Linked DNA regions of Homo sapiens. The protein of the gene in region 1 purifies or fractionates together with the protein of each later gene. This does not show direct contact. Each region holds a gene or a part of one and is shown in the gene's direction. Other genes may lie near its edges.

Region 1 (5,918 bases):
TTATCTTTACCTTTAAAAAACTTTGTCTATTTAAATCAGGAGCTGCAGGCAGAAATTCTTATCTGGAAGTTCTTCTGAAGTTGGCAGACAAATACAAAAAGAAAATGTGGGGGTAAGTTACTGAGCTTACTGTCTGAGTGTCATCTGAACAGCTGATTATAGGCTTTCTTGAGAGTGGTTCCCCCGTGTTTTTGTAAGCTGTGTTCTATGTTTGCTCTGCTATATGTTTTTTTTTTTTTTCCCTCCTGCCTCAGCCTCCCAAGTAGCTGGGATTATAGGCGCCCGCCACCACACCCAGCTAATTTTTGTATTTTTAGTAGGGTCAGGGTTTCACCATGTTGTCTAGGCTGGTCTCAAAACTCCTGACCTCAAGTGATCCACCTGCCTCCACCTCCCAAAGTCCTGGGATTACAGGTGTAAGCCACCGCACCCGGCCTGCTCTGCTATATGTTTTTATTCAGGATGTGAAAACTTTATCATGGGAGGAAAAGAAGGAATGAAGGGCTGTCAGCACAGCATGCATTTTTCTCATAGGAATCATGTTTTACATGGTGATTGGAGTGCCAGGTTAGCAGGCAGACACATAAGGAGTAGTGCACCTGAATTCTACTGTGAACTTGAAGGCTGGGTGAGAAAGGGGAAATAGAATTGTTTCCTTCTCCTCTTCTGAGTTAAGGACTGGATCTAGGCACATTTTCAAAACAGTGTATCTCTTTCCTATTTTATCCTTTTTTTTTTTTTTTGAGACAGAGTCTCACTCTCTTGCCCAGGGTGGAGTGCAGTGGCACAATCTCGGCTTACTGCAACCTCCGCCTCCCGGGTTCAAAAGATCCTCCTGCCTTAGCCTCCTGCGTAGCTGGGACTACAGGCGCACGCCACCATGCCCGGCTAATTTTTGTGATTTTAGTAGAGATGGGGTTTGCACCATATTGGTCAGGCTGGTCTCGAACTCCTGACCTCAGGTGATCCACCTATCTTGGCCTCCCAAAGTGCTGGGATCACAGGCGTGAGCCACCGTGCCCAGCCTCCTTCCTATTTATCTTTTTGCTTCTTGTCCTCAGTATCCATTGCTTTCCCCAGGTACCTAGCGCCCCCTGTTGTCCCTCTCTCGATGACCTTGCTCCTCCTCCATTAGTCCAGCAAATGTTTATTAGATGCCTACAGAACGCGAGAACATGCTTAATAACCCAAATGATATTGGTGGGATTTCAGGTAAAAAGGGAAAATCCATATAGAAACTCATCTTTTGTTTTTATTTGTCATTCTACGAAATATCTGAAGCGTGATCTTTTGTTCTCTAAGATCTTCTAGTTAGATCGTAAGCAATTTAAAAGACATATTTGCCCTAAAAACCAGTCTGGTTTTCTAGGTGGCTGTGGACAGAAGCTGGAGCCCAGTCTGAACTTGAGACCGCGTTGGGGATTGGAGGGTTTGGGTACCCCGCCATGGCCGCCATCAATGCACGCAAGATGAAATTTGCTCTGCTAAAAGGCTCCTTCAGTGAGCAAGGCATCAACGAGTTTCTCAGGTAATTTGTTTTCTTAGGTTGTTTGTTGTTTTGTCTGTTTGTTTGGTTCTGTTGTAGGTTTATATTTGGAACTAGGTATATATAAGCCAGGTAATAAATGGAATTTAAAATGCAAACTAATTCCAGAGAATTGAATGTTTATACATTAGAGTTTTTAAATTGTCTCCCTGTTCGTTCTTTTTTCCATGGAATACTCTGCTTGCGGGATGAGGAGAAAGCATTGCTACCCTCGGGCCGCCCTGTGTGCCATTCTGTGCATCTGGCCCTGGGCTCTTTCTCATTCTCATAAAGGTCTCATATGGGCTAGAGGCAGCCCTGTCTGTCCATCCTCACCCTCATATGCATTGTAATCTTGACCTTGGGGAAATGTGGTTTCCATTTCTGGGCACTTGGCTTTGGAATGTAGTTATTTATTTGAAAATGGGCGTACTTAAGTTACTCCAACAATGTGCAAACAACATGATAGGTTCTAAAACCAATATACAGAGCTGTCTACTCTGCTCTGCTATTCAGCTCACCTAATCATCTTTTAGGCAATACAGGGCATTGACCTAAAGAGGTTTTATTTCCCATTCTTGCTTTCTTCCGCGTTCATTTCTTAGCTGCTGTATAAGAGATGTTCAGCACACAAAAGGTAGTTGAGAGGCTTGTGTTGAATAATGAATAGGAAGAACAGTACATGAAAGCCTGCAGTGCTCTTGCTGCCAGTCTTCCTACTTGACACAGAAGTTTGTGTGCTGTGTGGAGACGTGTGTGTGTGCTGTGTGGAGAGTAGGGGCTCCAAAGTCAGGTGCCTCAGTCACAGCTCTGCCTTGAGTAGTGAAGTGGGAGGCATGGAGGAAGCCCTGTGAGATCAGCTGCTTCAGCCTCTGCCGGCGGGGGGCAGACTGTGGCTCCTTCCCTCCCAGCTCTCTCTCATTGTAGTTGGTTAATATGGTTAATGGGTGTTTTCTTTCCCCCCCACCCCCGAGACAGAGTCTTGCTGTGTCGTCCGGGCTGGCACGATCTCGGCTCACTGCAACCTCCACCTCCCGGGTTCAAGTGATTCTCCTGCCTCAGCCTCCTGAGTAGCTGGGATTACAGGCGCCTGCCACCACGCCCAGCTAATTTTTGTATTTTTAGTAGAGATGGGTTTTCACCAGGTTGGCCAGGCGGGTCTCAAACCCCTGACCTCAAGTGATCCACCCACCTCAGCCTCCCAAAATGCTGGGATTACAGGTGTGAGCCACCACGCCTGGCCAAGGGGGTGTTTTCATTAAGTTTGTGGGGCTGGGTGCGGTGGCTCACGCCTGTAATTCCAACACTTTGGGAGTCTGAGGCAGGCGGATCACTTGAGGCCAGGAGTTCGAGACCAGGCTGGCCACCACGGTGAGACCTTATGTCTACTAAAAATACAAAAAATAGGCCAGGTGTGGTGTTGTAGGCCTGCAGTCCTAGCTACTAGGGAGGCTGAGGCACACCCAGGAGGTGGACGTTGCAGTGAGCTGAGATCACACCACTGCACTCCAGCCTGGGCAAAAGAGTGTGACTTGGTCTCAAAGAAAAAGAAGTTTGTGGACTGCTTAAGTTTGTGATTGTCATAGAGTAGTATTTATTAAATCATGAAGTCAGAATGTGAATATATCTCCTGTAATTTTTTTTTCTAATAATAGGTTTGCTTATTCTAGCCCATTGGTGCCATAGATTGTTAGTCTAGCTCTATTATTCTATGAGTTGTTTGGTGAACTCTAAATATTTGTGCCCACAGTATTTCTGGCTCTGGTTTCCCAACAGCCAGATTACACCAGGTCTGGTATGTTTCAAGTACTGATGTTTATGCACATACGCACCCCGCTCTCTGCCAGCGCACTGGAACCAGTCGCCTCACTTCTGATATGCTCCCTCTGTACAGGTTCACAGCAGTCTTAGAAAGCTCGCAGGCAGCCCATGTTCTAGATCAACTTTGATAATTATTTATGTATTTAATTTGTATTTCAGCAAATGCTCTGCTATTTTTAAAAGCTTACTGATAGCAACTGACTTTATCTGATGCAGGGGGCTTAGTTGGGAATGTTGAATCTGGTTGTAATGTTGTCCGTGATTAAAAAGATAATGTCCTCAAGGTGTTTCTGAGGAATGTAGTGCAGCAAGAGAGAAGAAATGCCTCTGCATAAACAAAGTAGGCAGACTGTTATTTTTAAAGTTGTTTATTCTTCTGCACCAGCAGTCCATTGTAAATGTGTGTGTGTGTTTTGGTCATTTTTCCCTAAGGGAGCTCTCTTTTGGGCGTGGCTCCACGGCACCTGTAGGAGGCGGGGCTTTCCCTACCATCGTTGAGAGAGAGCCTTGGGACGGCAGGGATGGCGAGGTGAGTGCCCGGGAGGGAAGCTGTGCGGGCAGCAGTCCTGGTTTACTCTCTTGAGCCTGTGCATCTCTGCACCTGGAGTCAAGTCCTTCCCATCAGACCTCAGCCCTGGTGCACCCGTGGGCCTTTTAAGAGGTTCTTCTCTGAAGACCCTTCATCTTCCTTATCACAAGTTTAAGTGCTGCATGGCATTTGATACTCTTGACAGCCAAGATACATTTCAGTAGTAAGGTTGCTTTCCTGATTATTACCTTAAAGTGAACATTTAACCTGGAATTCATTTACTTTATCTTAGAAAAATAGAAAATGATAGCTTTGAAATTAGCACTTATTTCTGTACTGTTGTGTCCCACCCTCCTCAAAAGGACACGTTCAAGTGGCTTCCAGTGTTAAAATGGTGAGTGATGTGATGTTGAAATGTTTCACCTGAGTTCTGAGCTTTTCCATCCGTATAATCATAGGTACGAAGGTCAGGGTAGGAGTCAGACTGAGGAGAACCTGGATTGTAGCAGGAGTAGCTCCAGAGAGTCGCTCTTCCATAAAATGAGATGTTGACCTTCCAGGGTGTCCCCTTCTGCAGATCTAACAGTGGCTTTCTGTCGTCTCCCAGCTTCCCGTGGAGGATGACATTGACCTCAGTGATGTGGAGCTTGATGACTTAGGGAAAGATGAGTTGTGAGAGCCACAACAGAGGCTTCAGACCATTTTCTTTTCTTGGGAGCCAGTGGATTTTTCCAGCAGTGAAGGGACATTCTCTACACTCAGATGACTCTACCAGTGGCCTTTTAACCAAGAAGTAGTACTTGATTGGTCATTTGAAAACACTGCAACAGTGAACTTTTGCATCTCAAGAAAACATTGAAAAATTCTATGAATTGTTGTAGCCGGTGAATTGAGTCGTATTCTGTCACATAATATTTTGAAGAAAACTTGGCTGTCGAAACATTTTTCTCTCTGACTGCTGCTTGAATGTTCTTGGAGGCTGTTTCTTATGTATGGGTTTTTTTTAATGTGATCCCTTCATTTGAATATTAATGGCTTTTTCCATTAAAGAATAAAATATTTTGGACAATGCCGATAAATGTATGAAGTTAGTATCCACATCATAAATTCAGAGTGATGTTTAGCAGTAAATCAATATTTTGAAGTGATACACAGATGTCTTTCCTCCCCACAAACTTTTTTAAACAAAAAACAAGACCTCTTTTCTTTAGATGGTGCCACCTATGCCCACCACAACAGAGATTTTACATGGAAACCGGGCTCAGTGAGAACTGATTTCCTGCCCAATATTTGTCTTTGGGCTGTCTCTAGTGACTAATTATTAAGGAATCTAGCTGGTTATACAGTTCAAGGCTTTCTATGTTGTTAATGAACCTCAAAATAGCCGTTAAGACATGAAATACAGCAGCAGGTTACCAATGCGAACAGGTAGTTCGCATTTATGTAAAACATTCAGAAAATGAAGTTTTGAATTTGTTGGAACATTCAAAGGACTTGAGAGCATTTTATTGTAACTTAAAAAAATAAATACAACTGTCACTAACTTTTGTGAGCAATTTCTCTGAAAAAGATCTTAGTTCTGTAAGACATTTGAACCATTCTCTGGCTAAAGGAAAGAGGTGTCTGTAATAATCTGCACGAACATGAGACAGAGGTGCCAGCTGGCCTTTCTAGTCAAGAAGACTAAGGTCAATATGGAAGTAGACATAAGGAAAATAGTCTTGGTTATTGAGTTGCAGTCCCGGGATCTCCACAGATGCCTACAAAAGAAGACATGGTAATGCTCTAAGTGCATAAACTAGTTTCCTGTCTTATCCTTTTAGTTTTGAGGAAGCTCGCCAGGCACTGAGCGTACGTTCTGCTCTGCGTAGCTGTGGTCCACCCCTCCAACCCTCTCCTTGCTGTGCTTTAATGTGTATGACATGTAGATTTTCATAACAGGCTGACAGATAGTTTTGCTTTGTTTTGTTTTTGAGACAGTTTCTGTCACCCAGGCTGGACTCAGCTCACTGCCTGCCTCAGACTCCCAAGTAGCTGGGATTA
Region 2 (7,924 bases), on another chromosome or scaffold:
TCTCAAACTCCTGCCCTCAAGCAATCCTCCCACCACGGCCTTCCGAAGTGTTGGGATTACAGGTATGAGCCACTGTGCCTAGCCAAATAAAAGCATTTAAAAACTAAATTTAGTGTAAGTATGGCCGGGCATAGTGGTTCACTCCTGTAATTCCAGCACTATGGAAGACCGAGGCAGGCAGATCACTTGAGGCCAGGAGTCTGAGACCAGTCTGGGCAACATATTGAGACGCTGTCTCTACTAAAAATATAAAAAATTAGCTTGGCATGGTGGTGCACACCTGTGATCCCAGCTCCTAGGGAGACTGAGGCACGAGAATTGCTTAAACCCAGGAGGCAGAGGTTGCAGTGAGCCGAGATGGCGCCATTGCACTCCAGCCTCAGCAACAGAGCGAGACTCTGTCTCAAGAAAAAAAATTTAGCAGTAAGTGTATAGTGTGTATACAGTCTACAGTGGCATACAGTAATTTACTAGGTCTGCACATTCCCTCACAACTCCCTCACTGACTCACCCAGAGCAACTTCCAGTCCTGCAAGCTCCATTCATAAGTGCCCTGTACAAGTGTACCATTTTAAAATATTTTATACCCTACTTTTACTGTACCTTTTCTATGTTTAGATATGTTTAGATACACAGATGTATACCACCGTGTTATAACTGCCTACAATATTCAGTACTGTAACATGCTGTACAGGTTTGTAACCGAGGAGCAATAGGTTATACCATATAGCCTCAGTATGGTAGGCTTTACCGTCTAAGTTGTGTAAGTACACTGCATGATGTTTGCACAATGAAGCAATAACCTAATCACACATTTCTCAGAACATATCCCTGTCATTAAGCAATGTGTGACTGTACTTCTACTCACATTTTATTGACCAAAGAAAGTCACATGGCTATTCACAAATCCAAGCTATTGTAAGGAAGTACAATCCTATCATGTGCCTACAGAGGTCTTATGGAGAGCATCCCAGTTTTTGTCCCCTTTTTTGCTGGGAAAAAAACAGCTTTCAGGCCAGGCATGGTGGCTCATGCCTGTAATCCCAGCACTTTGGGAGGCCAAGGCTGGTGGATTGCCTGAGGTCAGGAGTTCGAGACCAGCCTGGCCAACATGGCAAAACCCCATCTCTACTAAAAATACAAAAGTTAGCCAGGCGTGGTGGTGCACGCCTGTAATCCCAGCTACTTGAGATGTTGAGGCAGGAGAATCACTTGAACCTGGGAGGCAGAGGTTGCAGTGAGCCAAGACCATGTCATTGCACTCCAGCCTGGGTGACAGAGCAAGACACAGTCTCAAAACAAAACAACAAAAAAAAAACAACTTTTTTTTTTATTGCCACTTAAAAAAGGCCTCCCTACTATGCAGAAATCAAGAACTCAACAATTGTTTCCTGTGTCACTACCAAATGTTTCCCAGGGGTTTTGCCACTATGTGGAACCAGCAGTTCTGTGAGGGACTTCTTTCAAGATACCGCCTCAGCTAGAAACAATTTCCCTTTTCCTGGTAATTGGCCATTTCTTGATTCACAGAGGTGGCTTCCTGGTGAACTTCATGCCTGTAAGCTGGCATGACTGTTCTGGAGGAGAGTACCTACCACAAGTTGGGTCAGTTAGAGCCTTTTCTACATGATTTTGTGATTAGAATGATTAGGGAGTTTTAGTCTCTGGGTAGTTGGAATTGTATCTCATACTTGGGAGAGGTTGGTAGACACATTTCCCATTGTATTATTAATACCTGGAGGCAGAGAAAACAAGTTTGCTGGAGTCATACTGGCTCCCCTTACTCTGCTTCCAGCCCATCCAAAATCCCAGCTAATTATTTCCCTTGGCCTCTGTGAGATCCATCCCACCCAAAGCCTAAAGATAAAGTCCCCTTTTATTTTCCTTGAATTGGTCTGATGGGTTTCTGGTCCTTGCAGCCAGCAAACTTCAGATAGTTCTTTGCCTCTGGACCCTGGCACAAAAAGTTCACAGGTGTAGCCCATTCCAATAAAACAGAGGTCAGGTGGTAACTATTGCATTAACTATACTAGCAGTTTCCTTACTGCTTGAGAAAGCTCATTAGAATGTGAGTGCAAATGACATTATTATAGGGATTACCTGAAATCTGCTTAATTTTTTTTAAAGGAAAGTAATATGCCTCTGTGTGTAAATATCATTTGTGACATACCCCCCAACACTGGTATTAAATGGCTGTTTCTTCTGCCTGGAATCTCTGTCTCAACAACTCTTTAGATGTGGCCCCAAAGTCACCTTTTCTGGGAAGCCTACCCACACTCTCCTGTATATTGTTAATTATGCTATTCTCTGTGCTTCCCAAAGCAGTTGGCACATCCATCTTTGTTACATATTTTCTCCCAGAAGTTTTTTGTTTGTTTGTTTTTGAGACAGAGTTTCGCTCTTGTTGCCCAGGCTGGAGTGTAATGCTGCAAACTCGCTCACTGCAACCTGTGCTTCCCGGGTTCAAGTGATTCTCCTGCCTCAGCCTCCCAAGTAGCTGGGATTACAGGTGCGCCTCACTATGCCTGGCTAATTTTTGTATTTTGAGTAGAGATGGGGTTTCACCATGTTGGTCAGGCTGGTCTCGAACTCCTGACCTCAGATGATTCATCCACCTAAGCCTCCCAAAGTGCTGGGATTACAGGCGTGAGCCACTGTGCCCGGCCAGAAGTATTTTTTTTACATGACTGTTTCCTCTGAAATACTGTTCCTCAAAGGTCGGGAGAATACCTCATTTTTCTCAGGATCCCACTGTGCCTGGATCAAAATAGATGCTCAGAAAAGTTTGTTGAATAAATGAAGTTGTATTGGAGCAGTATAACCTATATACATTCTCATTCATCCCAGAAATACTTATTGAGTACCTGAACATGTCGACCCATGTTCTAGATGTTGAAGATGGGAAAAACAAAGTTCCCACCTTCAGAGATATTATAGATGATATTCAGGTTAGAAGGGCTAGGCAGAAAAGTAAAGCAGGCTTAGAGGATAGTGATTGGAGTTGGGACTTGATACTTTAGTAGAGTGGTCTGGGAAAGTCTGGGGAGGTGACTTTTGAGTAGAAACTTGGAAAGCACACGCCTTTCTGATATCTGGAGGAAGCAACACCAAGTACAGAGGTTCTGAAGTAGAAGTGAGCCTCCATATTCCAGGAGCAAGAAGGAGGCTAGTGTGCCTGGCATGCAATGAGGAGGCCGAGTGGAAGGAGGTGCAGTTAGAGAGGTGGAGAGTATAAGTGGACGAAGGGCAGACACATAGGATCTTGGAAGCCTTTGGGAAAAAAACCACATTTTGGAAATGAAAAAAATAGGTGGGCATGGTGGCGTGCACCTGTAGTCCTAGCTACCTGGGAGGCTGAGGTGGGAGGATTGCTTGAGTTTGGGAGGTTGAGGCTGCAGTGAGCTGTGATGGGGCCACTGCACTCTAACCTGGGAGACAGAGTGAGACTGTGTCCCACTCTCCACCCCACTGCCCCCATATTTTTTTTTTTTTGGCTTTTACTCTGAGATGGGAAACCTTCTGGGGGCTTTTGAGCTTAGGTTTCAACAGGATCCCTCTGGCTTCTGTGTTGAGAGAAGGCACCATGAGAGCACAGTGGAATCGTGGAGAACAGGCAGGAGGCTACTACAATATTCCAGGAAAGAGGAAAAGGGGTATTTTAAAGGTAGAGCTGACAGGCTTTTCTAATGGGTTGCATGTGGGATATGATAGGGAGAGTGGAGTCCAGGATGACTCCAATGGTTTGTCTGGAGTCATCAGAAGAATGGAGTTGACATGAACTGAGGTAGGGAAGGTTGTGAAAGGAGCAAGCTAAGGTGCCACGTATGGGTGTTTGACTATCGACTTGTTTACTTGGACACATCGCTCACACTTGTGTATATGCTCCCTGGTTTTCAGGATCTGAAGGTTCTAAAGTTACTTGAAGTTAAAGGCAGCCTTACTTATTGAACACCAAGCACTGTGCAGAAATCTTTATATGTGGTGTCATTTAACCCTTTTAATATTTCTACTGATTTACTCATGTTTCATTGCCCTTTTACAGTTGAGAGATTAACACGTCCAAAGTCACTCAGACAATTATTAACCTGCTAGATTAATGCAGATCTGGGATTCCCATCCAGGTGTGTCAAGACCGTAGAGCTCCTGCTGTTTACTAATCACTGGATTCTAAAGGTGGGAGCCACTTTCTGAGCATATTTGCTGCAGACTTGGTTCCATAACTAAAAAGGTGCCTGGATCATGTGACGAGAATTCAGGAAAGAACCCAACCCCATCCCAGGCATTACAGGTTATACAACAGCTATGAAGAAAGGACGGTATTAGTGGACTCGAGGAGGCTGACTGATGTTTGAAAGTTCAAGTACTTGAAGACTCAATGTTAAAACAGTGATCAAGAGTTAGTTTTTTTGTTATTATTCTTAAGAAAACAGAAAATATTAAAAATTGCAGTGAACCCTTGGTTGGATAAAAGACCACTCCTAGTCGACGCTTGTTGGGAAACACTGGAATTGGAGGAGTGGGGGCAGACAGGAGCGAGAGCCCCTGCCAGCCTACACACACATCCTTTTGAAAGTGTAACCTGGTGTGACCTTCTTTAAGTGGTCCTCTGGAAAGAGCAGGATATGGAGTACAAAAGCCAGGAACCTCTGGGACCGCAGCATCCGCCCCCAGCGCCTCCTTCCCCGTCTTCTTCAGCCTCCACACGGTGGGGCGGGGAGGAGGGGGGAGGAGGAGTGCTGGCGCATGCGCCGGGGGCAAGGTCCGCTCCCCGCGACGTCAGGGGGCTCGCACCCGCTCGAAAGCCCCGCCCCGCGGCCGCCAGAGGCGACCTGGGCGGACTGGGGGGCCTGGGCCACGCCCCCAGCCGAGTCGAGCAAGGCCGAGGGGAGCCGTGCAAGGCCGAGCAGAGCCGAGCGCCTCCGAGAGCGGCCGAGCCCAGCCGAGCGGCCCGGAGTCGGTTGGTGCAGCTGCGTCCCCGCCGCTCAGCAGTCCGCGGCTCCGGCGTCGCCGCCGCCGCCGCCTCTGCGGGGCCTGCGCCGGCCGCCCGCCCGGCCGCGGGGAGGGAGGCCCGCAGCGCGGGAAGAGCGGCCCGGTCGCGGGCGCCGCCACCGCCGCCGCTGCCAGGTGAGCGCCCGCCACGGCCAGCCGGCCCCGCGTGCCCCCGCGGCTGTCAGTCCCCGGTGTCTGTATCTCTCTCTGCCTGTCAGACCCTGTGTCTGCGCGAGCTCCTTCCCGCCACGCCTGGCCCGCGGCCGGCCCGCAGTCTCAGTCAGCCCCCTCCCGCCGGCTGCCCCTGGTCTTTCTGTCAGCCGCCAGCACCCCCATGCTGAGAGGCTCCGCCCCTTCCCCCCGGAGCCCCGCCCTCCGCCATCTGTCATCACCCCCCGGGCTCCAGGAGCGGGCGTCCAGGGGTCCTAGGGGTCAGGGTAGCCCCGCGTGCCACCATCGTAGAAGGCGCAAAAGGGGGTGGTAGAGGGGAAGCGGGGGCGTTCGCGCAGGCCCGCCTGACCGTGTGAGAGTGCATGCCCGAGTGTGCGTTCCGCGTGTGCACCCGAGAGCCGCCTGCGTCCACGCCCGAGGGCCCTTGCACTCTGCTGGGATGTGGCAGCCCATGCCCCCGGTGTAAAGAGCGTCAGCTCGACCAGTGAAGGCGGCAGAGCCAGGACTCGAACCACTCGGGGTACAGTAGCACCCTGAATCTTGGGACCCTTGTCTGCCCACGCGAAAACACTACACGTGGGCCCCAGGTCCTCGGATTCCCTGAGTGGCGTGTGAGTGGAGTTTGGAGCTTGTTAAGCCTTCCCAGTTTGGGATTTTCATTCAGGGAAGCCTGTTGGAAGTGATTGAGGAGTGGATGGGATGTAGGACTTAGGTGGGGAGTGTTTGAGGGCTTGAGTCATTTTGAGTTGCATGGTTTACATTTCTGAGCAGTGATTGCCCTGGGCTTGTGCCCTGCGAGAAACTTATGTGACTTGGGGTGGGGGAGTGAGGTAGGAAGGAATGCTCCTTTCTGTTTTTATCTATGTGAACACATAGTATATATTTATCCAGATATCCTAAATGTTTATTCATGAGGCGTCCACACGTCCTTAATTTAAAAAAGGATTACAGTAGTTTCCATTTATACACGTTCTTGTGTGTTGTTATCTCAATGCTCTTTATTTGTGGTAACTTAGTATTGCAATATTTCAAAACTAAGAGAAAATGCATCCTAAAACAATTGGTATTTTGCCGGATAATTCTGAACCACGGAGAAGGAGCCAAAAGCGCACTTCATTAGCTGGAACAACTTATTCGAGCTTAATTTGTTTCTAAGAGACATACAGTGGAAAAATCCAGAAGCGCAAAATAGTATCAAAGACACATAGAAAATGAATGAAAAGGGCCCTTCTGTTGCTGCCTTGGAAAGATGGTATCAAAGTTGCTGTAGAGGACAGAGCCACTATGTAATGATCAACATATTAACCAAGTTGGTTTTGTGACCTTGATACATTGAGCGGGGCTTGATTTGTGCAGTGGTTCATGACAGGCAAACATTGCATGGGAAGTGTGGTAATTTTTGGAAAAAAATGTTCCCCATGTTGTTTTGGTTTTTGGTTTTGAGTTTGTTTTTTTTTTTTTCATATTGAAGTAAGATTTCAGACAAGGGAAGTCTCATGGTGGAGTGCTTTTTTCTTTTTAAAGATAACATTAAAAATTACCAAAGTAATTCATGTTTAAGGCAGAAAACTTGAAAAACAAAGAAAAGCATTGCAAACAAAACAAAACAAAAAAAACCCCATAATCCCACAAACCATAGTAAATCACAATTTGGTATTAAGCCTTTTAGCCTTGTTCCCATGTATACGTGTTTTTTCTTACAAAAATGCTATCATACTACACAACTTTTATTCTATGCTTTTTTTCTTTGACTTATAACTAGATTATGAGAGATACATCTTTGTTTTATGAGTAGGAACTTGTGTTTCTCTTTGCAATCCTTTAAAAAATTCAGATCATGTTAGTCCTCTGCTTAGAGCCCTCCAATAGCTTTTTGTCTTAAAGTAAACTCTGAAGGCCTTGCTGTGGCCTGCCAGGCTAACCCTCTTCCGAACAACCATCCTCACTTCGAGCCTTGCCAGACAGATCTCTTTGCTGTTTCTTAAAAACATCAAGCTTACACTTGTAATCACAGCACTTTGGGAGGCCGAGGCGGGCGGATCACGAGGTCAGGAGTTCGAGACCAGCCCGGCCAGCATGGTGACACCCCGTCTCTACTAAAAAAAAAAAAAAAAAAAAAAAAAAAAGCCAGGCCTGGTGGTGCGTGCCTGTAATCCCAGCTACTCAGGAGGCTGAGGCAGGAGAATTGCTTGAACCCGGGATGCGGAGGTTGCATTGAGCCAAGATCACACCACCGCACTCCAGCCTGGGAGACAGAGCGAGACTCTGTCTCAAAAAAGTCAAGCATACTCCAGCCTCAGTGCCTTTGCATTTGCTGTTCCCTCCGCCTAGAACTCTGGTCCCTGGATATTAACATAGTTGACTCCCTTACTTCAGGTCTCTGCTCAAAAGTTAGGTTGTCTGGCTTTGCTTGACTGCATTATCAAATACACCCCATTTCCCTGTTGTTCTTATCCTGCCTTGCTTACCACCACTTGGTAATACATATTTATTTGTTGGTGTATTGTCTCTCTCCCTCATTAACCCTGAAGTGTGAGACTTTTTTTTCACCGATATATCCTCAGGGCTCAGAAACTGCACCTGGCCCATTGTGGGTACTTAATATTTGTTGAATGAATGAAGGAAAGAATGAATGCTCATTATCCATCTATTCATATGACCTTGCTGGTAGCCTTCTAGGCTTCTAGGTAGCTGTGTCATGAGTTAAAATGACAATCTCTTAAAGGTCAGGATATTTCTTTCTCATCTATATCTGAGAAGAATT
Region 3 (7,023 bases), on another chromosome or scaffold:
AATCTCGGCTCACTGCAAGCTCCGCTTCCCAGGTTCACGCCATTCTCCTGCCTCAGCCTCCCGAGTAGCTGGGACTACAGGCGCCCGCCACCGCGCCCGGCTAATTTTTTGTATTTTTAGTAGAGACGGGGTTTCACCTTGTTAGCCAGGATGGTCTCGATCTCCTGACCTCATGATCCACCCGCCTCGGCCTCCCAAAGTGCTGGGATTACAGGCGTGAGCCACCGCGCCCGGCCAGATATTCTTAACTAAGCTAGTTAGTGGGATAGCCAGAAGCTCTGTTCAAATTTCCTCATTACTAGACCCAAGCTCTTTTCATTAACTATTACTTTTTGAGGTTGTTGGCCCCACGATTATTTTTATTTATTTATTTATTTTTTGAGACAGGGTCCCACTCTGTCACCCAGGCTGGAGTGCAGTGGCACGATCACTGCTCACTGCAGCCTTGACCTCCCCGGGCTCAAGTGATCCTTCCCACCTCAGCCTCCCAAGTAGCTGTGGCCACAGGCACGTGCCACCATGCGTGGCTAATTTTGTATTTTTTTGTGTTTAGAGATGGGGTCTCACTATTTTTCCCAGGCTGGTCTTGAATTCTTTGGCCTGCCTCAGCCTCCCAATGTGTTAGGATTACAGGCCTGAGCCACCATGCTCAGCCTCCCAAGATTAATTTGAGTTGGTAGCAAGACACTCCAGTTCAAGATGTTCTGTGGACTGAAAGCCCTCAGAAACCAATCTAAGGGGGAAATTTGGTGGTCGATGAGAGAATGTGTGTGTCATCGGAAGAGGTGAAACACAAGGCTGCTGGCCAGTTCAAGGTTGAGTGTACACAGTGAGGAGGGAGTGAGGCTGGGGTCCTAGGAATCTTCACACTGGGGAGTTGAAGTCTGGAAAGGTCATGGTAGCTTAGCTTGTCAGAGGCAGACACAAATGGGTTGGCCCAAAGTCCTTGGGACTGAGAGTCTATTTCCTAGATATATTGTACACTACCAGGAGGTGGTGAGCAATGGCTTTGGAGAGGGTAGGCCAGGTGCAGTGAGGGTAGGCCAGGAGGGTGGCACCAAAGGGTGGTGTTTATGACCCAAGAACATGGGGGTGAGGTAAGGCTGAGAGAGAGACAATTGTGATCAGATTCTACCTGGAAAAACAAGACAGAAAGCAGTGCTGCTGAATCCAAACTTCCAGTTCAAGAGGTGGTTTGGAATATTTGTTTACTTGGAACAGATGTTGCATTTTGCAAATCATAGCCATTTTGCAAATCAAAACACAGCCTTTCCATTGAGCTGCACACAGCGATGAGGGAGCTGTTGGATGCCACATCCTTGCCATTGACTTGCACACTGTGGTTGACCACCATCTTCATATTTCCACAGGCAACGATGGTCCATTAAAAATGTCAAGGAGAGAGAGAGCAGTTGAGAGGAGAGACAGAACAAATGAGCTTGAGAAATGGCTAGCAGTGGGGAAGGGAAGGGTTGGCCTGGTTTCATATATATATATATATATATATATATATATATATATATATTTTTTTTTTTTTTTTTTTTTTTTTGAGACGGAGTCTCGCTCTGTGGCCCAGGCGGGAGTGCAGTGGCGCAATCTCGGCTCACTGCAAGCTCCGCCTCCCGGGTTCACGCCATTCTCCTGCCTCAGCCTCCCGAGTAGCTGGGACTACAGGCACCCGCCACCACGCCCGGCTAATTTTTTTTTTATTTTTAGTAGAGACGGGGTTTCACTGTGTTAGCCAGGATGGTCTCGATCTCCTGACCTCGTGATCCGCCCGCCTTGGCCTCCCAAAGTGCTGGGATTACAAGCATGAGCCACCGCGCCCGGCCTATATTTTTTATATATATATGTTTTTCATGATGACGTTAGTGAAAATTGATTAGGCAGATGCAAAATCAGGTAGTATGTTGAAGTTAATGTCTCATACACTTAAATGTCCAAATATTAAATCCTAGAATTTACCATGGCCCTTTGTAAAATGACAAATATCTTTCTTAAAATAATAATAGTAATATTAGTAACTAGTATTACAGAATATCTTCCATGAACCAGGCACTATACTAAATACAAGTAATATATCATTTCATCTTTATAAACCATCCTGTGAGATAGGTGCAACAATTACTCATTTATTTTTAATTTTTATTTTTTAAAAACAGGGTTTCAGTCTGTCACCCAATCTGGAGTGGAATGGCACAGTCATAACTCACTGTAACCTTGAACTCCTGGGCTCAAGCAGTCCTCCCGCCTCAGCCTCCCAGGTGTGGACCAACGTGCCCGGCTTATTAAAAAAAATTTTTTTATAGTGATAAGGTCTTGCTATGTTGTCTAGGCTGATCTCAAACTTTTAGCCTCAAGCAATCCTCCCACCTCAGCTTCCCGAAGCCCTGAGATTACAGGCATGAACCACTGCACCTGACCTACCCTCATTTTCTAGATGAGAAAATTGAGGCTTAGAGAGATAGATAAAAGCATTTATCTGAGGTCATATAGTTTACAAGTGGCTGAGCTGAGATTTGACCCCAGGCCTATCTGACTTTATACACTGAGCGCTCAAATAACTTAATCAAATATCTTAACAAAAATGCAAAGCTCTTTCTGAGGTAACTCTAACAGATGCTTAGAATAGCCACAGGTTTCAGCTGGTGGAACCACCAACATTCTTTGAGCCACATTTAAAAAAACCAAAACAACAGTGGTAAATCGTTCCGGTTTTTTTTTTTTTTCATTCCACTTAGTCTTTATCTCCTTTTCTCTTGAAGCATTCCTAGAGAAAGGGACAGCAGCTTTTTCTCTGGGTACACCATTAAAGCCACTTCTGATCTGCTCCCACCCTCTTTTGGGGTGGAGCTGTGATTGGGGAGTGAGTTGGTGGTCATCCAGGGCGTGTCTGTGGAGTTGGCAATGGGAAACTGGGAAGCTCACCTTGTGTAGGAGCCTAAGAACTCTGGAGTGACCAGGTATAAGGATTTCTTTCCCTGGGGTGTCAGGATCCACTGCTGGAAGCTCCTGGAATATCTATGGATCATGACTCTAATCTTAGGCCTTTGAACTATGGCCATAAACCCCCAGGAAGAATCCAGGTGTGAACACATTCTCCCCCAATTTTTAAGATTGGGGAGTTGTGAAGTCCCTGTGGACTAATTGGAGGTGGGTGTGGATACCTCAGGAAAGGCCCCAGGTCAAAGACAAATAATTTAAAGGCCCCCCCCACCCCATAGGCCCCAGCTTTGACCTGTGAGAAAATGTGCTCCTCTCCCTCCTCTTGATGAACCTAATTACATAGAGAACTTACTCTCCTGGGAGTCTCAAAATGGAACTCAGCTGAGAGCGTGCTTCCCTCCCTTGCTGCCTGAGCTCTCTTTCCATTTCCTGGTTCTGCTTTACCTTCCCCTGAGTGGTTCTGTGTTCCCAGGATATGAAAGGCAGGGCCGCAGCTTCTGGCTTCACCGGGCTAATTTTTGTATTTTTAGTAGAGTCGGGGTTTCACCATGTTGGCCAGGCTGGTCGCCAACTCCTGACCTCAAGTGACTCGCCCGCCTCAGCCTCCCAAAGTGTTGAGGCTGAGGCCACCTCTGGCCCTCATTCTCTCAACATTCAAAAGCTTGTCACTTCATCCAGTTCCGAATTAACATTTTACTCTGGCTGATGATGAACGTCGGGGAGAAAGAGACATTTGTGCTGCATACGGGTTTATTGGTTATAAAATGGTTATACAATTTTGATTGCTGGAAACTTTGCTGACATGTAAGGTCACATGAGATGTGAGGCTGTTCAACTTTGATCATCTGATTTCTTTTTAGCACTGTGTCTGAAAGTGCCTATGTGCCGTTTTTGGTGAGACATATGTAGCATGGCTTCTGTAAAGGCACGTTGCTTTTTATTATAGTAATATTGTGGGCACAGAAAGGGTGAGGAGTTAGATGATTGGGAGAGTTTTTTCTTACTTAAAACACTTGTTTCATCAGAAAATATTTCCTAGCAGAGTTAGACATAGCTTTGTTCATAAAGTCCAGTGGTGAAGGGACTTCAGACTTTACGATAAACTAAATTTTATGATTGACTTTTGTGAGCAATTCACAGCTATAAAACTACGAGACTGGCTGGGCATGGTGGCTCACGCCTATAATCCCAGCACTTTGGGAGGCTGAGGCAGGTGGATCGCTTGAGCTCAAGAGTTCAACACCAGCCTGGGCAACATGGCAAAACATCGTCTCTACAAAAAAATTATCTGGGCATGGTGGCGCGTGCCTGTAGTCCCAGTTACTTAGGCTGAGGTGGGAGGATCATTTTGAGCCCAGGAGATTGAGGCTGCAGTGACCTGAGATTGTGCCACTGCACTTTAGCCTGGGTGACAAAGTGAAACCCTGCCTCAAAAAAAAAAAAAAATACCTACAAGAACATCTGGGTGATAACTCACTGCACACAGACATGCCTCCTTCAAAAGATCCAAGCTGACCACAAAAAAAAAGGAGAAACTGTCTTTTCTTGATAGTAAATTGGATGGAGACATTAGTAAGGTAGAAGGTGTCTGAGGGGCTTCTTCATGATAAAAAGCAAAAGGTTTTGGGGTGTCACTGACCCAAAATATTAGCAGAAATCAGATTTACTCTATTATTGAGGAACACAATACATTAAATTGTTTATAGATCCAGTTTCAAGAAAGAAGATGTTTATATTAAAAAAATGACAAAAGCTCCTTCAATTTTTTTGAGAACTAAGAAATAAGAGATTTTAGCAGTACTGCCAAAATAGAATTTGGATTTGAATTTAAGACACTGGTAAATGTGTGTGGAAGGATCGGTCTTGTTAATTACACCTTGGACCAAGGGCTGCTTGGAATGAATAAAAGAGGGGGAAAGGTTTAGACAAGTAGAATCTCTAGGTTGATATCAAGTTAGTATTTATAATCTTTGTAAATAAACCAAAACCTCTCAAAGACTCCTGCTGTCTCTTCCTGGAGAGCACTCTGAATTCTTTCCTGGCGGTCTCCCTTTTCCTTCCCCTCTCCCCAGGTTTAAGATCATTGGGACATCCTTTTGGTCAAGGAAATGTTTCTAAGAGTGACCTAGTTATTGGAATTTTAAGTGTTAATCAGGTCAGTGAGGTGCCATCTGTGAAACACAGCTCACCAAAACCCAATGTTTTTCATCAGAAGTTGTCATGGAAGTGAGTTGATTTTGGAAAAACAACAATAATAGCAATTTGCTTGATCCCTTTCTTATCCTCAAATAGCCAAATTAAATTCAAGATTATTGGCCAGGTGCAGTGGCTCACGCCTGTAATCCCAGCACTTTGGGAGGCCGAGGCAGGCGGATCACGAGGTCAGGATATTGAGACCATCCTGGCTAACATGGTGAAACCCCGTCTCTACTAAAAAATACAAATAATTAGCCAGGCGTGGTGGTGGGTGCCTGTAGTCCCAGCTACTCAGGAGACTGAGGCAGGAGAATGGCGTGAACCCGGGAGGCAGAGCTTGCAGTGAGCTGAGATCACGGCACTGCATCTCCAGCCTGGGCAGCAGAGCAAGACTCCGTCTCAAAAAAAAAAAAAAATTCAAGATTATTATCAGTGGAAAAAGGAAATCTGAAAATCTCTGAATGTTTAGTGGTCAATTAAAATGAGTCTTAGGGCAATTTAAAGTTTAGATACCTGAAACCAGTTGGCCTATGATCAGAACCATGGATGAGAAGTCAAAGTCTGTGATTCTGTTTCTGACCCCATGAGAAGGAAGGCCTTCTCTTCAGCTGTAGGTTTGATAATTAAACAAGATAGTGGATGTGAAAGTAACTAGTCAACTACAAGATAGAGGAAAGGCATTTATTGATGTTTAAAAAAGCTTTCTGATTTTACTTCCTTTCACTGATAAGTGGCCAAGACTTAGAGAATGACTTGCCTGCTGGAGGTTGCCTGATTTGAAACTGCCAGAAATTAAACTCATAACTGTGTCTTATAATTTCAACATTTGAAAAAATGTCAGGGTTAATTTTTTTGAGACAGAGTCTTGCTCCGTTGCTCAGGCTGGAGTGAGGGGCACAATCTTGGCTCACTGCAACCTTTCGCCTCCCGGGTTCAAGTGATTCTCCTGCTTCATCCTCCCCAGTAGCTGGGGTTACAGGCATGTGCCACCATGCCCAGCTAATTTTTGTATTTCTAGTAGAGACATGGTTTCTCCATGTTGTCCAGGCTGATCTCGAACTCCTGACCTCATGGGACTTCAGTCTAGCTCCAAATCTAGTGCTCTTGCAGTCAATTCATATTTTCTTCTGTTACTGACCATATGAAATAATTCCTCTATGAAATTTATGTGCAATTTTTATAAAAGTCTAAATGTATTTTATGGCTAACCCTCAACTATGGAGCATATTAACATTAAAATGAGTTCTTGAAATAAGAGTTGATTAACATGGGAAAATATCCATCTCTTTCATCTTGAACAAAGTAGTTTTGTTTTAAAACTTATACTTCCTGCTAATGTACATCTGGAATGTGTAGGATAAAAGATTAAACTTTCTAAATATTTTACAAAGTTATATTCTCCCTATGTGATATATATTGTTCTGTGGGAGACTAAGCCTTAATTGAAGTATTTCTGCAAGGTTACTATAAGCATTTCTCATACCACTAGGACAATAAATAATGGGAGAACCCAAAACATTGTAATTTTCTAGTAATTCAGAGGAAATAACTGAATCCTGAAACATTGTACAAAAGGGTACACAATGATACCCATTTTTGCATGTTAATGTATTATTAAATATCAGTGGGAATAGTCTGCATGCTATTTCACATCTCAGGCACACTTAAGGAAGACCTTGTGATGTGCATGTTGCTCATTTAATCTAGAAAGGATACCAAGATTCATTTAGAACTTCTTTATGCACAGTTTTTTTTTGAGTATGTTATGTCCTGAGGCATTAAGGGTATTACTAAAGCAAGCAGCGGGACTTCTCAGAGAAATTAAAGGTTTCATATCAACCACACGTTGTCAAAATCTTCACTTTGAATAGGATTAAATGA

The links. Proteins that work in one complex are often made in the same cells at the same time.
Region 2: the proteins of PDIA6 (region 1) and ZHX3 purify together in Homo sapiens (affinity purification with mass spectrometry; 3 studies listed by BioGRID and IntAct, with this or other methods). This does not show direct contact.
Region 3: the proteins of PDIA6 (region 1) and PLS1 purify together in Homo sapiens (affinity purification with mass spectrometry; 3 studies listed by BioGRID and IntAct, with this or other methods). This does not show direct contact.

What each region holds. Positions count from the first base shown.
Region 1 is NC_000002.12:10,782,891-10,788,808, reverse strand, and holds the end of PDIA6 (protein disulfide-isomerase A6 isoform d precursor), read left to right. Parts: intron 1-39; coding exon 40-112; intron 113-1,369; coding exon 1,370-1,528; intron 1,529-3,698; exon of another isoform or gene 3,699-3,778; coding exon 3,779-3,875; exon of another isoform or gene 3,876-4,482; coding exon 4,483-4,551; 3' UTR 4,552-5,418; downstream 5,419-5,918. UniProt on the Homo sapiens protein: May function as a chaperone that inhibits aggregation of misfolded proteins. Negatively regulates the unfolded protein response (UPR) through binding to UPR sensors such as ERN1, which in turn inactivates ERN1 signaling.
Region 2 is NC_000020.11:41,314,709-41,322,632, reverse strand, and holds the start of ZHX3 (zinc fingers and homeoboxes protein 3), read left to right. Parts: upstream 1-4,901; 5' UTR 4,902-5,124; exon of another isoform or gene 5,125-5,771; intron 5,772-7,924. UniProt on the Homo sapiens protein: Acts as a transcriptional repressor. Involved in the early stages of mesenchymal stem cell (MSC) osteogenic differentiation. Is a regulator of podocyte gene expression during primary glomerula disease. Binds to promoter DNA.
Region 3 is NC_000003.12:142,599,393-142,606,415, forward strand, and holds part of PLS1 (plastin-1), read left to right. Parts: intron 1-1,135; exon of another isoform or gene 1,136-1,354; intron 1,355-7,023. UniProt on the Homo sapiens protein: Actin-bundling protein. In the inner ear, it is required for stereocilia formation. Mediates liquid packing of actin filaments that is necessary for stereocilia to grow to their proper dimensions.